Regions from separate parts of the Homo sapiens genome. Here region 2 is linked to region 1. The links come from fine-mapping of genetic effects on gene expression. A gene starts in region 1. The other region holds a variant in brackets. All regions are shown on one strand. Distances are from middle to middle.

Evidence for each region. PIP is the estimated chance that this variant, and not a neighbour inherited with it, causes the effect.
Region 2: its variant is the best candidate, but not a certain one, in a credible set for the expression of COP1 in whole blood (INTERVAL, PIP 0.85).

What each region holds. Positions count from the first base shown.
Region 1 is chr1:176,203,298-176,211,637 of GRCh38, forward strand. It overlaps COP1 (COP1 E3 ubiquitin ligase), which reads right to left and starts at 3,989. Exons shown (of 20, transcript NM_022457.7): 1 at 3,275-3,989. The coding sequence starts at 3,681. COP1-DT (COP1 divergent transcript) reads left to right here and starts at 4,368. Exons shown (of 5, transcript NR_185981.1): 1 at 4,368-4,574. RefSeq lists silencers at 3,427-3,786, 3,817-4,026 and an enhancer at 4,527-4,596.
Region 2 is chr1:175,951,135-175,959,474 of GRCh38, forward strand. All of the region lies in intron 18 of COP1 (COP1 E3 ubiquitin ligase), which reads right to left. Among named protein-coding and RNA genes, the nearest start is that of MIR1843, 13 kb to the right of the region's middle. The variant A/C (reference allele first, on the strand shown) is at 4,252.

The DNA of each region.
Region 1 (8,340 bases):
CTGCACTCCAGCCTGGGCAGCAGAGCGAGACTCCGTCTCAAAAAAAAAGAAAAAAAGTCAACCTTCTCATAAAGAGCTTACTATCTACATGCAAACGTATACTTCTGCTGCAAGAATGGCTGGGACTTGCAGAGGTAGAAAACTTCATTTGAGATAGCTGGAAAAGCTAATACAAAGGCAGTAGTTATAGAATTGTTTAAAAAAGGAGTCCGTATAAAAAACAGAAGTCATCTTTCAAATACAGACCAGACTCACAGTCTAGTTAAATGAACCGTAAGAAAATTTTGCAAAAAACAAAATAACAAAGACTTCCTCTGAATGTTGAAAATGTATCCAATGTCAAGCTAAATACTACTGTCCTGTATTAGATTCTCCATCAATAAAACACTGTTAAAATTATTCAACTTGATAATACCTTCAATCTTTTGTGTAAAATAAAATATAAAAATGCAACCTAAACCCCTAAAATGTTTATGAATTCTTCAATTAAATATAAACTTACTTTCAAATATAAGTCAGGAGAGGCCAATGTTTATTACTGAAATTAGGTACGTGACTATTTAAATCAACAGTTCTCAAGGAGGGGAGAAGGACAGGTCCCTATCACCAGGGGAGCATATGCAAATTACACCACCCACCCCAGCCTCCAATTCAGGTACGTCTTCTTGGGATGTGGGCAGGTAAGAAAAGGGAGTGGTGAGGGATAAAACATTTATCTCATATGATTATGAAACAGCTGCTTCTCCTCCAATCTGTGCCGTTTAAGAACCACTGGGCTAAATACATGTACTCGAACTTACAGATCTGAAACTCTCTAATTGCACACAAAGAAAACACAAAGTTGAGAACTGGGAAATCTGAGTTCTCATTTTGTCCTTACCTGTCCAACGACAAACAAAATTACTTCTCTGTGCCTCAATGAGAAAATAATTAGTATTGTATTAAAAATAAGTTATATATAACATCACAGAATTGTTCTAAGGATAAAATAAAACGTGAAGCATAAGCATATCTTTAAAATGTCCCATAAATGAATAAGAAATTATCATTATTTGAACTTGGGCTTCGTTTAAATATAAAAGCATAGAATAATTTGAATTGGTTCACAGTTTGACCTTGGGGCATACAAGACAAGACCCACAGCCAAACGGGGGGAAAAAAAAAGAAAAAAAGGATTCCTTGGGCCTTGCCTAATCCATATCATCCTACCCCAAGAGTCTGGACAAAATCAAACCTGGCTTGAGTTTTAAATCAGATTCTCATTAATTAATTCTTCTGAATATTAAACCTCACCAGAAAAAGAAATAATTAACTAATGAGATTCTTAGAAAGTGAAATACTCAGGACCACGGTGGCTCACACCTGTAATCCCTCCCAGCACCTTGGGAGGCCGAGGCGAGCAGATCACCTGAGGTCAGGAGTTCAAGACCTGCCTGGCCAACATGGTGAAACCCCGTCTCCATTAAAAATACAAAAAATTAGGCAGGTGTGGTGGCAGGTGCCTGTAATCCCAGCTACTACTCGGGAGGCTGAGGCTGGAGAATTGCTTGAACCCGGGAGGCGGGGGTGGCAGTGAGCCAAGACGGTGCCACTGCACTCCAGCCTGAGTGACAGAGCAAGACTCCGTCTCAAATACAAATTTTTACTCTTTTAAAAAAAGAGTTCCCAATTCCCTATAGCATAGCCTGCAGTGCACTGAACTTCATATGGTGCCTGGCCGACAGTGAATGTCATACAAGTATCTCTTGAATGACAATGATCGATTCCTTATTCCTCACATCTTTTACTTTATTTTAGTGTACTTACACGGAGGCTAACATGTTTGTGTTCGTTAAGTATACTAAAAATTAAAATGCAAACAGTGGCTAAAAAGACAACTAAATTATGCACACCCCACTTTGTTTTATTAGCTTATTAGCTACTCGCACTATCGACTGTGTAGAAGTGCAAACACTTCTCAGCCCCAACCATAAACTGCTTATTTATAAATAACAATCATATTACAGCCCAAATGTTCAATGAAAAACAGATTAATTCTGATAAAGAATAACGTACAAAAAAGCAGAAAGGTGAATAAAGACATCATTTTTCTGCAGGAACTAGAAACCGTAAGTCTAATCAATAACTTTCCTAACAGTTCCAACTTCTAGCTCTATCTTATTTAATAACACCAACTCAGACCATCTTCAACCCTGATCTGAATCAACTTCCCTCATAATGACTGTGCAAGCAGCCAACTTCCTACATGCCTAATATTTGATCAACAATTTCCTCAAAAAGGAAAGTACGAAACACTACCACTTCTTAAGCAGCTAGCTAACAGCAATTACTTCTCATAATCCTACCAATATCTAAAATCCAATAAAAATTCCAAAACACTCTCAAGCAAGACAATCAACACCACCTTTCACTTCATATGACTAACCTCTCTATCCCAAATGTCATGACTAAATGTTACTCTGTATCATTCAAGATGCCAACTATGACGACAAAATGTCTATACCTAGCATTTCTCAAGTCAGAAGTTCCAGTATACTCTGTTATCCAGTATAGTACAGTTACATCTGACACAGGGATGTTATTTAACAAACGTGGTTCTCTCTTTTCAAGACACTTGGTGGAGAAGTGAAAAATCTGTTAACAGACTTTGACTACAGTCGTCTCAACAGCCGATTCCTAAGTGGCCCATCCTTTGAAATGGAAGAAGATATTTACACATACATACGATAGGTACTTACATTATTATAAAAAGCATGTCTTTATAAGACATCCATGCTTATGTTTACAGCATCATCTACCATACTTCAAATAAATTTTGACCAACTCCACCCCTCTGCATCCGAGGAAGCTTAGTCCTCTCCATTTGCAAATTTCATTCATCTCAACAAGGACTCCTGATTGACTGAGTGTTCAATTCATCAGAGAGGCAAAAATTTTAAGACTCAACCTCTCTGCCAACTTTGTTATCCAAAACCATTTATTTGACCTTCCACCTCTTCCCTCGTCATTCGTTAAACTCCCTTCACTTCCTCCTCAGCAACACTTACCTACCTCTTTATTATCCCCACCCTGCCTCGCTACTCCAACATTCCTTCACCCCACCAACCAGGAGCTCGAATGCCTGCAAACGCTCGATTCCCTCTGCAGACACCACCACAGCACCAGTATCCCAAGCTCTCCAACAAGCCACCCCCACACCAGACCCCCCGCCCCCAAGCCTAAGCGGCAGAAACTCATAATTTAGGGACAAGGAGGGAGTGCTCTTCAAACCCACCATACGAAGTCGTTGCTTTTGTCCTCGTAGGAGTTGATGAGCCCGTTGCAGAGGGGGGCGAGGAGAGGTCGCTTCCTGCTGCCGCTGCCTAGGCTGGAGCTGCTGCCTCCTACGCCGGCGCTGGGCCTGGCCGCGCAGCTGTGCCGGGACAGGCCCGTGGACACCGCCCCGCCGCCGCTACCCGATACGGCGGGCGCCACCAACACAGGCCGCACCGGGCCCCCGAGGCCGCCCGAGCCGGCGGCCTGGGCCACCCCGCCGGACACCAGCGCTGCCGCCGAAACCGCCACGGAAGGCGGCGACGGGGAAGAGGATAAAGACGAGGAGGCGGAAGTCACCGAGGAGGCCGCCGAGGACCCGGGGCTTGTCCCAGCGGAGCCCGACCCGGCCTGGCGGCTACCAGACATCGTGACTCCCTCCCCTCCAGCCGGGCGCTCGGAGGAGAGGGACCGCGACCTCGACCCTCCGCCGCCTCCCCTCCCCTCAGCCTCAGTGCATCCTGAGGACGCCCGCCGAGCCGGAGGTGGGGCTGAGGAACAATAAAGTTGCGTTTTTTTTTAAGGCAGCCACACAACAGCGTCCCACGGGAGGGGGCGGAGGAAACTAAAAAAGCGGAGTAGAAGGCACTACCGCTGTCGAGGCCGCCGCCGCCACCGCGGTCCCTGTAGCAGCCAACCCCGGCGCGCCGTGGCCGGCCGTGCGCGCGCGCGCGAGCGGCGGAAGAGGCGGGCGTGGCGGGGGATACAACTGGGGACGCAGCGGGGCTGCGCTCAGACGCTCAGGGCGCGCCCTCGGGGTCGGGGCTCCCTGGCGAAGGGAGTCTGTCTGTCCCAAGCCGCTTTCGTTCCAGAAAACGTGCCAGAGGGCAGGCCGTCTTAATACAGTGAAAGAATTGAGGAGACTGGAATGAATGGTATAGGTGGTGGGGTGGTTTGAAAGACGGGAACGTAGCGGGCGGAAACTCTCGAAAAGCGACTGCGCAGGCGCGCGCCGGGCGCGGACGCTCACGGGTCACCCAGGGTATCCGCCCCAAGCGGAGAATATCGGCGCAAGCGCGGAGTAGCCGTGTCACGCATGCGTGCGAACGCACCACATTCCGGAACGGGAAGAAGGAGCTGTCTCTCTCTTCTGAGGGGTAGGCAGGTGCTTCCGAATCGCGGAATGTAGGTGCTCATAAGCTGGAGACCCACGGAAAGAACCTAGAAGCTCCGAGCGGTTGCAGACAGCACTGCATTGAGCCAACGACTCCTGCTCTACTGATGGTGATTCCACAGCTTTGTGAGGAATAAGTTAAGATGAAGTCAGTGAAGTTTTCTGCGAATTGCAAACATTGTAGCAAGTGTTACCAATTTTATTAGTTCGACCACGACTTCACTCCTATATTTTGAAAAGCTGTTTGCCAAATTGAACATAACAATAATGGGAAAACAGATTTTGCTCAATCAGACCCAGCTCAGTCGGAACCTAGGTTTATTGTGGATCTGATATAATTCTAGCACAAAACAAGGAAACCTAGCATTTAATACCACCAGAAAATATACAATTTCTGGTAGGCTTTTTTAGAATATTGAAAATTGATTATAGGCGGGCGCGGTGGCTCATGCCTGTCATCGCAGCACCTTGGGAGGCCTAGGGGGTCGGATCACCTGAGCCTGGAGGTGAGGATCAGGCTGAACCTGAGGTTAGAGACCAGCCTGGGCAAGATAGCGAAACCCCGTCTCTACAAAAAGTACAAAAAATTAGCTGGGCATGGTGGCAGCAGGCCTGTAGTCCCAGCTACTCGGGAGGCTGACATGGGAGGATTGCTTGAGCTGGGGAGGTTGAGGCTGTAGGGAGCGGAGATCCCTACACTCCAGCCTGTGAGACAGAGACCCTGTCTCAAAAAAAAAAATTTTTTTCATTTGCCGCATTCTAAGGGGTGGGAGTTAGAAACAACTGTGTGATTTTATCCTTTTCAATTCTATCATTCTATGATTCTTATATATTTATTTGGGAATAAAGTGTGAAAATACTCATGACTTAGTAAACTACGTGCGTATTCAAGGAGGTAAAGGAAGGCAAAGGTTTTTAAAATTTAAAAAAAAATGAGAATTACATAATTGTTTTTAAACCGTTATCCTTGGCTACGAAGATCAATAACAAGGTGACACCAGTCGGAAACTGGACAGGAAGTTGCTGGGCAGATGTTTTTGCGGAAGTATTTTTTGTGTAAGATTGTGGCTTTTGGCCAGGTGCGGTGGCTGAGGCCCATAATTCCAACACTTTGGGAGGCCAAGGCGAGTGGATCACCTGAGGTCAGGAGTTCGAGACCAGCCTGGCCAACATGACGAAACCCTGTCCCTACTAAAAATACAAAAATTAACCGGGTGTGGTGGCATGCACCTGTAATCCCAACTACTCGAGAGTGTGAGGCAGGAGAATCGCTTGAACCCAGAAAGCGGAGGTTGGAGTGAGCCAAGGTCGTGCCACTGTGCTCCAGCCTGGGCAACAGAGCAAGACTCCATCTCAAAAAAAAAAAAAAGATTGTGGCTTTTGCAGGTTTTTGTGATAGTTTTTGTCATCAGGTGTGCAAGCATGAGACCCCTTCTCTTCATGACCTCTGAATCTATTTTTCAGTGTTTTAAAAAATATATTAGTGACTACCTCCCACCCCCTTTTGTTTAAGAGATGGGGCCCCCCACCCCCTTTTGTTTAAGAGATGGGGCCCCCCACCCCCTTTTGTTTAAGAGATGGGGCCCCCCCACCCCCTTTTGTTTAAGAGATGGGGCCCCCCACCCCCTTTTGTTTAAGAGATGGGGCCCCCCACCCCCTTTTGTTTAAGAGATGGGGCTGGGATGCAGTGACTGTTCACAGGCAAGTCTATAGCACAGTACAGCCCCCAAATTCCTGGGCTCAAGCAATCCTGCTGCCTCAGCCTCCCAAGTAGCTGGAACTGTAGGTGTGTACCACCGAGCCCATATAATTCCATTTTGATTACGACAGCTTTCACGGAAATTAGGCATTAAGTAGGGTAAAAACATTTATAATGTTTTAAAGATTAATTTTTTAGGAGATTAATCTTTCAGAAGAGGTGGGAAATTAGGAACAAAGACTAGGAAAAATTAAAGCAGTTCGAGCGTAAATGATAAGATTCTAGATTAGGATGGTGACAAAGAAAGGGAATATTCTGAGAAAAACACTAAGGAACTGATGGTATAAAGTTTAATTACTCTCTGTAAAACTGTCTTTACCATCCTTGAGAGTATGACCCATATCTGTCATATTCATCACTGTCTATATCAGTGCTTGACACAATGGTCAATATGTTGATTAAGTAAAAATGATGAAACACAAACAGAAATGACTCCAAACATGACTTCTGGGTAACAATAACGTAGTGACAAGATTGGAGGTGTCCAGTAGATGGTTTAGTTTTGAATGTTTTGAATGAGTGTGGGATGAAAAAAACTCAAAGAATAGGCAGTGGTCGAAAACACAGGGTTAAGGCACAGAAGAAAGTTCAGCACATGAGAGACATTTGGAAGTTACTAAGGGCATAGTATATCATCATCAAATAGTTATTATGGACCTATTATTTGCTAAACATATTGCTTCCCCCATGATTCTCAAACATCGGTGCCCAGAAGAATCACCTAGAGAGCTTGTTAAAAACCAGATTTCTGAGCTCCACCTTATGAATATGCATTTGTACCAGCACCCAGGTGAATCTGAGGCAAGTGACTAACACTTTGAAAACACTGTGATTGGCCGGGTGCGGTGGCTCATGCCTGTAATCCCAGTACTTTGAGAGGTTGAGGTAGGTGGGTCACTCGAGGTCAGGAGTTTGAGACCAGCCTGGCTGGCATGGTGAAACCCCGACTCTACTAAAAAAATACAAAAATTAGCTGGGAGTGGTGGCATGCTCCTGTAGTCCCAGCTACTTGGAAGGCTGAGGTAGGAGAATTGCTTGAACCCAAGAAACCCAGGAGGCAGAGGCTGCAGTGAGCTGAGATCGCACCTCTGCACTCCAGCCTGGGCAACAGAGTGAAACTCCGTCTCAAAAAAAAAAAAAAACAAAAAACACAACACTGTCCTGTGATTGATAATGTAGAGAATGTGAAAGAGTTTCCTTCCAGGCCAGGTGCAATGGCTCACGCCTGTAATCCCAGCCCTTTGGGAGGCTGAGGTGGGTGGATCACTCAAGGTCAGGAGTTTGAGAACAACCTGGCCAACATGGTAAAACCCCATCTCTACTAAAAATGTAAAAAATTAGCCAGGCATGGTGGCGCATGCCTGCAATCCCAGCTACTTGGGAGGCTGAGACAGGAGAATGGCTTGAACCCAGGAGGTGGAGGTTGCAGTGAGTCGAGATCGTGCCATTGCACTCCAGCCTGGGCGACAGAGTGAGAGTTTCCTTCCAAGTTGCTTATGCTGAGGACTGCTGTGATTTGAATGTACCCACCAAAACTCAGGTTGAAATGTAATTGCCATTGTAACAGTGTTGAGAGTTGAGACCTTCAAGAGGTCTCATGATTAGGTCATGAGGAGTACTGTTAGTTATTGCAGGAGTGGGTTCCTAATAACTGGATAAGTTTGGCTCCCATCTTGCCTCTCTGTCTCTCATGCTGTCTTGGGCCTTTCACCATGAGGTGACCCTCCCCATATGCAGGCACCGTGCTCTTGGACTTCCCAGGCTCCACAACTGTGAGAAATAAATTTATTTTCTTTATAAATTACCCAGTCTGTTGTATTCTGTTATAGCAGCAGAAAATGGGCTGAGACAGAAAGTAGTATGACCCCAACTGAGAAGTCTCCTAGGGGGAAAGAAAAAAAAATCATCAGTTCTTAGTATTACCTCTTTGGAATGTATTTTTTATAAAATCTAAATTCACAAAAAGAAGCTGAGAGTATGTGATGCAATAGAGCTTCATTTTTGTACCAGATAAATGTACTGGCTGAATACATAATTGTAATGACTGAAAGTACACAGTCCTTATTAATTTCTACTGGCAAGATCTTCTGGGAAAGCAGAAGAAAAAAAGAGGAAGCATGGTGAAACACACACAACACACAAGAAGGAAGACAAC
Region 2 (8,340 bases), 250 kb before region 1:
GCTACTTGGGAGGCTGAGACAGGAGAATCGCCTGAACCCGGGAGGTGGAGGCTATGGTGAGCCAAGATCATGCCACTGCACTACAGCCTGGCCAACAAGAGCAAAACTCCATCTCAAAAATAAATAAATAAATAAATATATAAAATATAATAAAATAAAATCCTGACAAGTTGAGAAATGAACAGTTATTCACTCAGCAACTGGTGGATTTATTCATAGAGATAGATGTAACTGATTTTAAATGTAAATTAATTTTAGTATAGGTATAAGTATATACAATGTATTTAAATATAAGATACGTGAATATATATATATATATATATATATAAAAACTTCCATTTTTGGCCATAACAGAGTAAACAGACTAAATTTGTTTTCCTACCATATACAACTGGAAAACTGAAAAAAATATGTAAGATACCACTGGACCACAGGCAGTACAGGACTGTGATCTTTGAGAGAAAAGAAACAAATGAAGTGAGTCCTATAATCACCCTGGTTTTCTACTGAGAGGCAATTTCTGGACCACAAAGCAGGTAAGGAGATGGACATAACAACAGATGAGACAAGTGAGGAATAAAACATCAAAAAATTTGGTAACACCTCCAAAATTACAACTGAAGCAGACAGGAAAAAAGCATGAGAGGAAAAAGAGATTAGCATCTCAGTGACCTATTGGGCAATATGCAACCTAATAAATGTATAATTGGAGTCCCAAAGAAGGAAGAGAAAAAAATATATGAAAACGTTAAGACTAAAATGTTTCAAATTTGTAAACTATAAACCCACAAATCTAAGAAGCTTAACAATTTCTGGCAGAAAGAAGCACAACACCACATCAAGGCACACCACAGTTACACTGCTGAAGACAAGAAACAGAGAAAATCTGTAGAAATGCCAAAGAAACAAAGACACATTACATAAAGAGAAAGATCGCCAATTTCCCATCAGCAAGAATGCAAGCCAGAAGACAATAGGACAGCATCTTTAAGATGACAAACAAGAGGCCAGGCGCAGTGGCTCACGCCTGTAATCCCAGCACTTTGGGAGGCCATGGCAGGCGGATCGCCTGAGGTCAGGAGTTTGAGAGCAGCCTGGCCAACATGGTGAAACCCCATCTCTACTAAAAATACAAAAATTAGCTGGGCGTGGTGGCAGGAGCCTGTAATCCCAGCTACTCGGGAGGCTGAGGTGGGAGAATCGCTTGAACCTGCGAGGCAGAGGTTGCAGTGAGCCAAGATGGCACCATTGCACTCCATCCTGGGCGACAAGAGCAAGACTTCATCTCAAAAAAAAAAAAAAAAAGATGATAAACAAGAAAGCCATCCATTGAGATACACAAAATTAAAGTCAAAATAAAGATATTTTCAGATAAAATAAAGCTGAGATAATTTTTCACAAACAGACCTGCGCTGTAAGAAATTGTTAAAGGAAGTTCTTCAGGATGAAGGAATATTATACTACATGAAAACTCTGATCTAAAAAAGGGATAAGGTGGGCATGGTAGCTCACACCTGCAATGCCAGCACTTTGGGAGGCTGAGGTAGAAGGATCATCTGAGCTCAGGAGTTTGAGACCAGTCTGGGCAACAGAGTAATACCTTGTTGCTACTAAAAATAAAAAAAAACATTAACCAGGCATGGTGATGCATGCATGCCTCTAGTCCCAGCTACTCCGGAGGCTGAAGCGGGAGGATCTCTTGAGCCTAGGAGTTTGAGGCTGCAGTGAGCTATGGTTGCACCACTGCACTCCAGCTTGGGAAACAAAGCAAGACTCTGTCTCAATAAATAAATAAGGGATGAATATTGTGAGAAATGGTGACTAGGTAGATAAATATAAAAGATATTTGATTTCTTGTTTTTAAGTTTTTTTAAAAGATAATTTCCTATTTTAAGGAAAAATAATAACAGTGCTTTAAGGTGATTATAACACAAACACAAGTAAATATACATGACAACAAAAGCACAAATAATAAAAGGGGAGAATAGAAGTATAATGTTATAAGATTCTTCCATTATAAAGTGGTATCATATAATCTGAAGACAGACTGTAAAAAGTTAAACATATTATAAACTTTAGAGAAACCATTAAAAAATACAAGAAACAGTATATACCTAATAAGCTAGTAAAGGAGAAAAAATATTATAAAAATACTCAAAAAAAAGAAAGGAAATGAGGAACATAGGAACTTAGAGAAGACAAAAAATATGACAGACATAAAACCAACTGTATTGATAATTAAGTATAAGGGGTCTAAATATTATAATTAAAAGGCAGAGATTATAAGACTGGATAAAACAGCAAGATTCAACTCTATGCTGTCCCTAAGAAATACACTTTAGGCTGGGCGCGGTGGCTCATGCCTGTAATTCCAGCACTTTGGGAGGCTGAGGTGGGAGGATTGCTTGAGACTAGGGGTTTGAGATCAGCTTGAGCAACAAAGTGAGACCCTGTCTTAAAAAAATAAAAAAAGGAAACACTTTAAACATAAAAATACAGATAAGATACACCACGCAAACATTAATCGTAAGAAAGCTGGAATGGCTATATCAGAAAAAGTAGACTTCAGGACAAGAAATTTGACCAGCGATAAAGACAGGTATTTCATAATTAAATAAGGGTCAACTTATAAAAAAAAAAAAAAACTCCTATATACATATATATCTAAAACAAAGCCAAAACTGACAAAACTAAATAGAATAAATTGACTCATGTTTGGAACTTTTAACAGTCACCTTTCAATAATTCAAAGACTAAGTAGAGAGAAAATCAATAACCATATAAAAGACTTAAACAATAGCATAAAAACCAAACTGAACTAACTGACATTTACAGAAAGTTTTATTTAAATGACAGAATACACATTCTTTTCAAATGCATGCGTACTAGTCCCCAACAAAGATGTGTCAGACCATAAAACAAATCACAGTAAATTTAAAGGGCTAAAATCATACAAGTATGTTCTCTGAAGAAACAGAACTAAAGTAGAAAAGAATAACAAAAAGAAATCTGGAAAAATCCACAAGTATTTGCAAATTTAAAAATATACTCCCAAATAACCCAGGGATGGAAATGAGAAACCATTTTGAACTAAAAGATAATAAAAATGCAACATATCAAAATTTGTGTAATGCACCTAAAACAATGCCTAGAAAGTTATAGCTTCCAATACTTATTAGTAAAGCAGGAAGGTTGAACATTAATGATATAGTAACTTGCACCTTAAGAAGCTAGGAAAAGAGCAAGTTACACATGACGTAAGTACAAGAATGACAGTCATGAAGAGCAGAAATCAAAATAAAACCAGAAAAAGGTAAAAAAGTATTGAAATGAAAAGTTAATTCATTGAAAAAAATCAATAAAATTGATACGCCTTAACAAAAAGAAAATGTAAGTTAACAATATCAGTAATAAATTATGGGATATCACTAGATATTCTATAGATATTAAAAGAATAATTAGAAAATAAACATGAACAATTGTATGTCAATAAAACTGACAGGTAATGAAATGAACAAATTCTATGAAAGATACAAATTCCCAATTATGACAGAAGAAAGAAAAAGTTGTTAAAAATGAAGACTAAGGAACATTTCCAAACTCAGCTTGTAAATCAAACAAAACCAGAGAAAGACATTACAAAAACAAATAAAATTACCAACTACTTTTATAAACAGATGTAAAAAACCTTAACAAAATACAAGTAAAGATAATTCAGTCATATACAAAAAGAATAATGCATCATGTCTAAATGGAATTCATCCAGATATTAAAATTGGTTTTCAACATTAAAAAATATATATATATAATTCACTATGTAAAGAGAATAGAAAAGGCCAGGTAGGGTGGCTCATGCCTGTGATAGCACTCTGGGAAGCTAAGGCAGGTGGATTGCTTGAGTCCAGGAGTGTGAGACCAGCCTGGGCAATATGGCGAAACCCTCTCTATCAAAAACACAAAAAATTAGATGGGTGTGGTGGCATGCACCTGTAGTCCCAGCTACCCAGAAGGTTGAGGTGGGAGAATCACCTGAGCCTGGGAAGGCTGTAGTGAGCTGTGATTGTGTCACTGTACTCTCGCCTGGGTGACAGGAGTGAGACCCTGCCTCAAAACAAAAAAAAGAAAAAGTAATGTAATCACAACACAGAAAATGCACTTGAGAGCATTCATCATCCCTTCAGCAAACTAAGAATAGAAAGGAACTTCTTCAAGGTGATAAGGAATACCTATGAAAAACTTACAACTAACATC[A/C]TACTTAGTGGTGAAATACTGAACCCTTTCTCTCTCAGACTAGGAACAAGGTGAACATGCTTTCTCTCACCATTTGTATTCAACACTGTATTAGAGGTACAACCCAGTGCGACAGTCAAGAAAAGGAAAAAGCATATGGATCTGAAAAAAGAAAACTGTCTTCATTTGCAAAAGAGATGATGGCCTATGTGGAAAATCCTAATGTACCTTAAAAATAAGCCACTAGAATAAATAAATTGTCTTCAGCAAGATTGTCAGACACAAAGTCAATTATACCAAAATCAGTTCACTTCCATAAACTAACAATAAATGATAAGCAAATAGAATTTAAAAAATACCATTTATAGTACCATAAAAAGCATGAATCATTTAGAGACAAACCACACACACACACACACACACACACACACACACACGGCCTACATACTAAAAATTACCAAACAATGCTTAGAGATGTTAAAGAATACCTAAATAAATTGACAGTTATACCATGTTCATAGACCAGAGACTCAATAGTGTCACAATGCCAATTCTTCTTACATTATCTATAGGCTCAATGCAATTCCAATTAAAATCATACAAACTTTTCTAGTAGAAACTGGCAAAGTGATTCAAAAATTTAAATGAAAAAGCAAAGACATTATAATAGTTAAAATAATTTTGAAAAAGAAAAAATAAAACTAGGGACTTACACAACATGATTTGAAGTTCTACTGTTAATAAAAGCATTAGGAATCAATACAGTGTAGTATTATTAGGATAGACATATAAATCAAAGGCACAGAAAAGAAATTCCAGAAACAGATCCATCCATAATCAACTGAATTTCAAAACAACTTGGCAAGTTAAAAAAAAAATAGAGTAATTTTTACAAATGCTGTTGAAACAACTGCAGGTATGTGAAACAACCATATGTGTGCTAAAACAACTGTATATACAGAAAAAAGTAAACTTCAATCCTTCTATCATACCATTCCCAAAATTAATTCTAAATAGATCTAAGACATACATGTAAAAGCTGAAACAATAAAACTTCAAGAAAAAAAATCAGAGAAAATCTTTGGGTTGGCAACTATTTTTTAGGATGCAAAAAACATGTACAATAAAGGAAAAAAAAAACCCTGATAAATTGGACTTCATCAAAAATTTTAAAATACCATCCACACTTACTAGAACAACTAAATCTTTTTCTTAAAGTGACAATATCAAGTGTTGGCAAAAATATGTAACAAATGGAATGATTTTAGGATGCTGGCAGGAGTGCAAAATATAGTCATGCACTGCACAATGACATTTTGGTCAACGATGGGTCACATATATGATGGTGGTCCAATAAGATTATTGTACTATACTTCTTAATCATTAATTTAGATTATACTCCTTCTACTTATTAACAAAAAAAGTTACTGTAAAATAGGCTCAGGCAGGTCCTTCAGGAGATACTCCAGAAGAAAGCATTGTTACCATAGGAGATGACAGCTCTATGTGTGTTATTGTCCCTGAAGACATTCCGATGGGACAAGATGTAGAAGACAGTGATGTTGATGAGCTTAACAAAAAATGTTTAAAAAGTAAAAATAAATAAATACATTTAAAAATGGAAGAAAGCTTACAGAATAAGGAAAAATCTGTACAGCTGTACAATGTGTTTGTGTTTTAAGCTAAAAGTTATTACAAAAGAGTCAAAAAGTGAAAAAAATTAAAATTATAAAGTAAAAAGTTACAGTAAACTATAGTTAATTTATTATTGAAGAAAGAAAACATTTTAAAATAAATTAGTGTAGCTTAGGTATACAGTGTTGATAAAGTCTACAGTAATGTACAATAATGTCTGGGTCTTCACGTTCACTCACCACTCACTCCCTGACTCACCGAGAGCAGCTTCTACTCCACCAAGCTCCATTCATGGTAATGCCCTAGGCAGGTGTACCATTTTTTACCTTTTATATTGTATTTTTACTATAGCTTTTCTGTGTTTAGATACACAAATCCCATTGTGTTACAACTGCCTACACTATTCAGTGTAGTAACATGCTGTACAAATTTGTAGCCTAGGAGCAACAGGCTATACCACATAGCTAAGGTATGTACTAGGCTATACCATCCAGGTTTGGGAAGTACACTCTATGATGTTTGTGCAATGATGAAATCAAATCACCTAATGGCATTTCTCAAAACGTATCCCCATTGTTAAGTGACCAATGAATGTAATACAACAACTATGGAAAAAGGTTTGACAGTTTCTTATAAGGCTAAACTTACAACTACTCTACAATCTCATAATGCCACTCCTAGGTATTTATCCAAAAGAAATGATGGTATATAGTCACATAAACACTTATTTATGAATGTTTACAGCGGCTTTATTAAAAATAGTTCAAAACTGGAAACAAGGGCAATATTAAAGATTGGTGAATAGATACAAAATTTGTTGCATAGTTATAAAATGGATTACTAATAAGAAGGAACTACAGATACAGGCAATAACACAAGCATTTCAAAGTATCATGCTAAATAAAAGGAGCCAGGTGCAAAAAATTACATACTGTATCATTCCTGTTATATGAAATCCTAGAATAAGCAAAACTTAACTTATGATAACATAAAGTGGATTAGCAGTAGCTTGTAGTGGAGAAGGGAGGGGACTGATTACAAAGTGACACAAGGTAACTTTTTGGGTGATGAAAATGTTGTTATAACTGAATTAAGGTAGTAGTTATACTGATGTATACACTTGTAAAAATTCACTGAATACTCTTAAAATGTATGTAGTTTATATTTATGTAAATTATATTTCAATAATATCAATTTTAAAAAGCTGGGAACAAACACACAAGAACAAATACGTATTTTATAAGTTAACTTTAAACTCAATATTGGTCTTTAACAATTAAAAGTCATTATTCATGATTTAAATATTTTCTGATTTCCCAACATAATATATAAACCCCTTATCACTACTATATTTATGAGATCTCTGTAACCATTCAGGTATAATATCAAAGCCATTTCAGCTATGAAGCTAAATATTTCCCCCAAAATAAGGCACTGAATTATCAAAAAGAAAGGTAAATATTTTTGTCATTCCTCTCTCCCTGTTCAATATAGATGGTTTTATATATAAACCTTGCTATTTACTATGATAAGCATTTCCACCCTACATTTCTCCTCCTTTTATTAACCAGAAGATAACTATTAAACAAAATCAGAATATAACCCTTCTTTAAAATTTATTTCTCCAAATGTTAAGCATTACGTTAAATTGATGACTTCCCTCAGAATGAGAATAAATAATGTTATAGAAAAAAGAAACTGAAAAGACTTTATGTTAATAAATTTTAATATTTAAGCCAAGTGGAAAAATTCCTATAAAAACTTACCCAACTAATCAAGAAGAAATAGAAAGCAAGAATCATCCTACAGGTATTAAATTCATAAATCGACAGTCAAAAATATTTCTACCTCAGGCTTACATGACTTCATCTACGAGTTCAGCCAATATTCAAGAAAGAAATAATTTCGTATTACACAAATTTTTCCACATCAAAGGAGGAAAGAACTCCTTAATTTGCTTTATGAAGTTAATATACCCATGAAATCAAAACCTGACATGGACAATGCAAAAAAGGAAAAGATTATAGGCCAATGTTATTCATAAAGACAAATGAAAAAATCCTAAACAAAATAGTAGCAAGTTGATTTTAACAATATATAAGGAGAATAAATCTTGACCAAGTTGGGCTTATTCCAGCGAATGTAAAGTTGGTTTAATATTAGGTTAAAAAAAAATTTCACCTACTAGATCAATATTTGAAAGAAAAATATTATATCATGTTAAATAGGTACAAAAAAGCAGTAATATACTTTAGCATTCATTTATGGTAAGAACTCTCAGCACATTGAGAACTGAAGGAAACTTCTTTGTAAGGGTATGTATCTACAAAACTCTTACAGCAGACATACTTAATGATAACATCTTTAAAAGCTTTCCCTTTGGTGAGGAACAAGTCAACGATGCCAGATACCATTACTTTTATTTAACATTACATTAGATGTTCTGGCCATCAAAATACGGCAAATGAATAAAGA